Homo sapiens: one gene and its partner. The protein of the gene in region 2 purifies or fractionates together with the protein of the main gene of each other region. This does not show direct contact. Each region holds a gene or a part of one and is shown on either strand. Other genes may lie near its edges.

Evidence for each region. Proteins that work in one complex are often made in the same cells at the same time.
Region 1: the proteins of RSPRY1 (region 2) and DYNLT4 purify together in Homo sapiens (co-immunoprecipitation; one large-scale study listed by IntAct). This does not show direct contact.

Annotation. Positions count from the first base shown.
Region 1 is NC_000001.11:44,805,393-44,808,740, reverse strand, and holds DYNLT4 (dynein light chain Tctex-type 4), read left to right. Parts: upstream 1-1,389; 5' UTR 1,390-1,416; exon of another isoform or gene 1,417-1,902; 5' UTR 1,903-1,957; exon of another isoform or gene 1,958-2,061; 5' UTR 2,062-2,072; coding exon 2,073-2,738; 3' UTR 2,739-2,848; downstream 2,849-3,348. Other genes in the region: serine/threonine-protein kinase PLK3, read right to left, coding at 3,063-3,254.
Region 2 is NC_000016.10:57,203,329-57,206,828, reverse strand, and holds part of RSPRY1 (RING finger and SPRY domain-containing protein 1 isoform 1 precursor), read right to left. Parts: intron 2,326-3,500; 5' UTR 2,171-2,325; coding exon 1,821-2,170; coding exon of another isoform or gene 1,817-1,820; exon of another isoform or gene 1,448-1,816; intron 1-1,447.

The DNA.
Region 1 (3,348 bases), on a different chromosome or scaffold from region 2:
AGAGGGAGAAGCAGGGACTTGGGAGGCCTGTTTGCTGAGAAGCTGAAGTTTAGGAGTGGAGCAGGAGAGGCCCAAGCTCCTGAAGGCATCAGAGGCCAGAGGCTCGGGGACAGGAACAGACACAGGGAGGGGGCCAGGAGAAGCTGAGGCTGGAGTGGCCTATGGTCCTGGGAAGAAGCTGGCTGGCTGGCGGCGGCGGCGGCGGCGAAAGAGGCCCTGGCTGGGAGTCTGCCCAGGCAGCCGACGGGGTGGGAAGCCTGTGGGTTTCCATGGAAACTGGAGCTGGCCTGAGAAGAGACTCCACCCATCTCCCGGGCAGGCCCAGGGAAAACTTCAGCCCTTAGAGGGGCATTAAGCGCCATACGAGGGTCTTAGCCCCCGAAGCTGAGCCTGCCCTAGGTTCAGAGTTCAAACTCCTTGCCCTCCTAACCCTTCCCTCCTCCACAGGCACACAGGGTCAGGATCCGGTTAGCCAGGCCGGGGAAACCCCCACTCAACAGGGAAAATCCTCGCCCCCATAGATGGGTCAGGGCCCCGACCTGGCTTGTTTGGGAGGGGACAGTCCCATCCCTGCCAGAGGAGGAGTCACATGAGTTGTCAGCCCTGGCAGAGGTGTCACAGCCTCTGCCATCTCTGAAATGTAACTTTGGGGAAACCTAGGTACTAGAGGTGTAGCCAGCTAGGGACAAGCCCCAGGACACTTGGGTCAGCAAAGGTCACGAGGCTGGACTCGGGGTTCACTGCCGAGTCACTGCCACTTTATAAGGCCTGGTGCCTACCAGCTGAGCCAGTGGGCCTCCCCTCCCCCGCACATAGCCCTGAACTGAGGAAGTCATCCAAGCCCCACCCTAACTCTGCGCCGGGAGCGGAAATGTTTGTCCTTGTCGAGGCCGATGGGGAGACAACAGAGCCATGACGTGTTCCTTCCTGTGGGCCCAGACTCTGGATTCCTGAGCCACCACCCCCGCAGCCTCAAGATCTCCCCCTAACCTAGGCCTCTGTGACTTGTTCACGAATGGCCAGTCATCTGGCCATTCCACAAGGGGAGAAAATGGGCCCTGGCTCAAGAGTCCTGGGGTAGGACAAAGCCTTTCTGACCACAGCCTTGCTCTACATCTGCCCCTCTGTTGCCTGCGCTTAGGAAGTTTGCCTCTAAGCTGCAAGACCCTGTCGGCCGCTCTCCCTGATGACTCAGGGGCACCCCATGCTCAGCACATGCTCACAGCAACAATGCTCTCAGGTTAAGCCAGAGCCAGACTGGAGGGAGGGATCCTGGGAGGGAGGAGTGTTTGCTCTAGCAACCCATGGCAACTCCACAACACAGGTCTTTCCCCTCCCACTTGCCCTTCAGGCCAGCGGGGCCAGGGCTGTGCAGCCAGGACAGAACTCAGAAGCCAAAGCCTGCGGGTGACTCAGGTGCCTGAGGGAGTTTCGGGAGCAGAGGGCAGCCATCTCAGAACTGATTCTGGAGGAAGTGGGATCAGAGGCCAAAGGCAGAAGGTGGAAGGGGGCTTCATGAGTCATCTGCCCTCAGCCTGGGCCAGGTGTAGGGGAGATCTTTGTGCCAGCCACCCTAGAGTAGATCTGGGTGGAAGATGACTGGATTCAACACCCCCAGGGCTGGAAGGATCTGTGGGGTTGAAGGAGCTGAGTCTGTCAGTCCTTCCTGGTTAGGGGTTGGAGGCTCTGCCTCCACAGTCCAGGCTGAGGCAGAGGCCTGCCTCTCCTTCCAGAGAAGTCGGGTGGAAGGGAGAAATGGCAGTCTCTAAGACTCCGAGCGTACCTGGCTAACTTCCATAGTGCCCAGAGAAGGAGCTCAGTCGGCAAGGACTAGCCGAGGATCCCAGTCCTAGCAGCCTCCTGTCCCCTGCTCATGTGTCTAACAGCCTTTAACCTTCTCAGCACCTAGGAACCCAGGCAGCCTGGGACTATCTGATCCACTTGTTCTAAAACACAGGTAAGAAGGGGGTAGAAGGTAAAAACCCTTGACATCACTGAGCAAGAGGCTGGGGTGGGTAGACAGATGCCTGGTGAAGGCCACCCTGAGTGTGGTTCCTCCAGCCAGCAGGTCCATGGCCAGCAGGCCTCTGCCCCCGGGACGCCAGGAGGAGGAGAATGCCAAAGACTCCGGGCGGAAACCCTCACCGGTGCGGCCCCGAGGCTGCCTGCCCAGCATTGATGAGGCCCGACCGGCAGGTCCAGGTCCAGCCCCGGCCTCGCGCCGGGGCTCCATGCTGGGCCTGGCCGCGTCCTTCTCCCGCCGCAACTCGCTGGTCGGGCCAGGCGCGGGTCCTGGGGGTCAGCGGCCATCCCTGGGCCCGGTGCCCCCTCTGGGCTCAAGGGTCAGCTTCTCAGGGTTGCCCCTGGCGCCCGCCCGTTGGGTGGCGCCCTCCTACCGCACGGAGCCAGTGCCCGGGGAGCGCTGGGAGGCTGCGCGTGCACAGCGTGCCCTGGAGGCGGCGCTGGCCGCAGGGCTGCACGACGCGTGCTACTCCAGCGACGAGGCCGCGCGGCTGGTGCGGGAGCTCTGCGAGCAGGTGCACGTTCGCCTGCGCGAGCTCAGCCCGCCACGCTACAAGCTGGTATGCAGTGTGGTGCTGGGGCCGCGCGCGGGCCAGGGCGTTCACGTGGTCAGCCGTGCGCTCTGGGACGTGGCGCGCGATGGGCTGGCCTCGGTCTCCTACACCAACACCTCGCTCTTCGCGGTGGCCACGGTCCACGGGCTCTACTGCGAGTGAGGGGGAGTCCAATTCTGCAAAATTGTTTATTATCCTAGGAGGAGGCCCCCCTGGGGCTCACATCCCAATAAATAAGTGTCTGACAATAAATAAAAGTGGTCCATAAATAACGCCCCCTAGCTGGGAGCTAAGGCTCAGGCTTATCTTGGAGATGGGGTAGGAGCCAGCGAAGACAAGCCGCCCCCAACTCCAGTAAAGCTGGTCCCTGATTCCCTGGGGGATTCGGCCCAAAGCCCCCAGTGAGGCACCAAAGGAAGGGGGAAGGCCACAAAGGCAAGGGCCAGAGCCTGACAGGCACAGGCCTCAGGCCTCAGGGCTTGGGTCCTAGGCTGGGCTGCGGTCCCGGAGCAGGCGCAGAGCATAGCGGAGTCGCTGCCGCAGGTCTGGAGAGCAGCCCAGCTGCCGAAGGTGGGAAGCGAGGTAAGTACAAGCACTACGATTTCGGGCCACAAAAGTCACAAGGAGGGGCTCCCAGCCACTGAGAATCAGCTTGGTGTGGTCCCCGTAGAAGTTCACCTGCACACAGAGCATGACAGTGGTCAGGACCTAGGCTCCGGGCCCAGCTTCCTCCCCAGCACCCTGGGCCTCCCAGACCTTCCCGCAACTCCTG
Region 2 (3,500 bases):
CTTAAGGAGGCTGAAGCTCGACAATCGCTTGAGTCCAGGTATTTGAGACCAGCCTGGGCAACATGGCAAGACCTGGCTCTACAAAAACTTTTTTAAAAATTAGCCAGGTGCAGTAGCACACGCCTGTAGTCCAAGCTACTTAGGAGGCTGAGGTGGGAGGATGGTTTGAGTCCAGGAGGCTGAGGCTGCAGTGAGTCATGATCACGCCACTGTACGCCAGCCTGGGTGACAAAGTGAGACCCTGTCTCTTTAAAAACAAAACAAAACAAAAAAACTCTCTCTCTCAAAGTCTATTCTGCACCCATTTTTCCAATGAGCTTAAATTAACATTGTTTGTGGTTTACTTCCTTATTTGGGAAGGATAACTTTTATTACAATTTGGTACAAGGGATTTAAAAAATTTTTTTTGATTAATTAATTTTTGAGACAGGGTCTTGCTCTATTGCCCAGGCTGGAGTGCAGTGGTGTGATCATAGCTCACTGCAGCTGGAAACTCCTGGACTCTAGCAGTACTCCGGTCTTAGAATCCTGAGTAGCTGGGATCACAGGCAAGTGCCACTGTACCTGGATAATTTTTAAATTTTTTTTGCAGAGATGGGATCTCCCTATGTTGCCTAGGCTGGTCTTGAACTCCTGGCCTCCAGCTATCTTTCTACCTCAGCCTCTCAAAAGTGTTGGAATTACAGGTATGAGCCATTGTGTCTGGCCAAAAAATTATTCTTCTCGAAGACTAACAAATGCTCCAGTATTTTATGGAAAAGTTTAATACAGCTCTAAAAATTCGTTTGTATTCACAGGTACACTCTGTTTTATGCTTAATTTTTGAGGAACTAAACGAAACTGGGTTTCTATAAATGCGATTATCAAATGTTTATATACTTAAATTTACTAGCAGGGCCTGAAGCAAAAAGAACACATAAGTAACTTTTTAAAAAATACTACCATCTACTGAGCAACTGTTAAGTACAAAGCTCCACACTGAATGCCTTATGTACATTATCTCATGATAATCCTTGTGGGAACAATATTATCCCCCCATTTACAGATGAGGAATCTGAGGCTTCAAGAAGTAACTTACCCAATGTCATGCAGTTAGTAAGGCACTGGGCCAGAACTTGAGCTAGGCCCATCATGGTTCTAAGCTTTGTGCTCTTAACTACTGAAATATACAACCTTAAGTTAAATGTTTTTTTCTACTTGGATGCCCTTTAATTTCACTGTTATTCAATCTATGATTTTGTATTTAGAGGTAGACAAAGCAGAGGAAAAGACAAAACAGGTACAGGTGTGCCTTGCAGTATCAACTGACAAGCTTCCTAAATGGATTAAAGATAGTCAAATAAGGGATAAAGGATCAAATAAAGGATAATGAAAACTCTCCTTGACCTTAGTCCTTATGTTGCCAAGAGAAGTTGCCTGTAGCCATGTTCTTGGTAAAACAACTTACCTTGAATCTGAGGTCAGTGGAATAGACAGGCATGTACCATTAACAGTGAGCCTTCATGAAACCATTTCCTATTGTAGCTAGCAACATAAACTCACTCCATATTTACTCTATTCTCTAATAAAGATCATAGCTTTATCGTGTTTTCTGCTACAGAAACATTTAGACATTTCCAGACAAAGTAGATGACAGCAAGCAAAAACATCAAATCTTATCATTTACTCTGCCATCAGCGGAGCATTAAAATATTCTCCTTTGCCCTGTGAGCACAAGGCTTGGCGAGTATGTCCTAAAGGAACTGAAGGAGTCCTAAAGTCATGGTTCCGGGCAGAACACTTTTCATTCCACTGGAGGTGACCGTGAGTCAGATACTTACTTATCTACAAGAGTCCGTATTACTGCCAGTGTGTCCAACACTAGCCCATCCACATTTTGTTTCTTTCTCCTTGGCTCATGAGGTCCTCGGCCCCTCCTTGGTGGCCGAACAGGGTCCCGTGGTTGGCTCCTTGTGTCAGCAGTGGGTACTGCACTGTTCTCGGCCTGTTGCTGTTGGGTGTCAACACTGTCATCTGTTCCACTGTCATCTCGGCAGATACAGGAATTACCCATGGTAGTAGCGGCACCTCCAGTCCCTAGGAAGTGGGCTATGTGCTCTTCGAGAGTCAACAACAGACCCTGGCCAAGGCTTCTGCTCGCTAAGAACACGGCCCAACCAAAGACGATCATTTAGGTAGTTTTCAGTTTTCCAAGTACTGTTTTCATAACCTGGAGTTGAGGAATTTGCATCCTATTTGTTTTTAACAACTGAATGCCAAAGAAAGTTGCAGAGCTTATTCCCAACATTATCAACTACAGGGGATTCTGGACATCCAATGGCAGTTCTAAAAGAAAATGAGAAAAAGGAAAATGAATAAAAGATTCTTGACCACTTAATTACTCAAATTTTCCTAGTCTGATTTTATAGATATTAGGATTCTAATGAAGAATTATCTTTGGTTATTTTTATAGGTTTCCAATACAAAGAGATAGCTTTGGATAACAGAATTCGCAATCAATCAATAATTTCTTTTTATCATTCTGTTACAAAGTTGATTGCCAAACCATATTCTTATAGACCAGAGGAGTTATCATTGATTTTTTTAAAACCACATGTATAGTTTTTCCTGTCTATATAGAAATACATTAGAAGGATGTGTGCATTTTTTTTCAAGGGCTCCTTTTATCATAAAAAAAGAGTTGTCTTTCTGTGTAAGAGGTAGGTGTTAAAAAGAGAAAAATCTTTAAAAAAATGAATTAACTCCTTTCTTTAAACCCATAGGATAATTTAACAAGTTTTAAATAAAATAATTACAGACGTTTGTTGTTAAAAAAAAGTTATGATACAAATATGATAGCACCATTTGATATCAAGGAGAATAAAAGGATAGAGTTTCCCATTGGAAGCTCACTCAAGAACTGACAGAATTCATACAAGTTGTTGCAAAGTGTTTCTGTTATGTAAGCAAGGCTTTGTTTTGGGAAAGGAAAACTGATATCACAAAAGTTGTATTTTCACAATGATCAGTTTGTTGCACATGTCTATTACAAAGTTCAGAATAAGATGCACCAATTTATCTTTGCCTGAAAATACTGACTAAGGACCTTGTGCCAGGTACCACGCTGGACTAGGAGAATAAAGATGAGTAAGGAATAGTTCCTGCCCTCCAGGAATTCATGGATGGCCATTCTCATCCCACAAAGTATGTTTATCATTAAAAACCTAATGAAAGAACCAGCTCTTCAAGAAGCTGGTAAAATCTGGTTAGATTCTGGAAGGAAGTAAAGATTTAGAAATAGGAGACTTACATGGGCTGGTAGCAAAAAGTAAAAAAACAAACAAACAAACAAAACAGGCTGACAGCTGGAGAACAGGCCACATAAGGAATAGACTATGCTAGTGTGTAGTCTCTACACAACATCTGGCTAGTTACAATTAATTCCTCATACCTTGAGCACTGACCAGGAATAATATAAACAAAATTTATAATTCAGTGGAATTAGAAGAGAAATATTACTC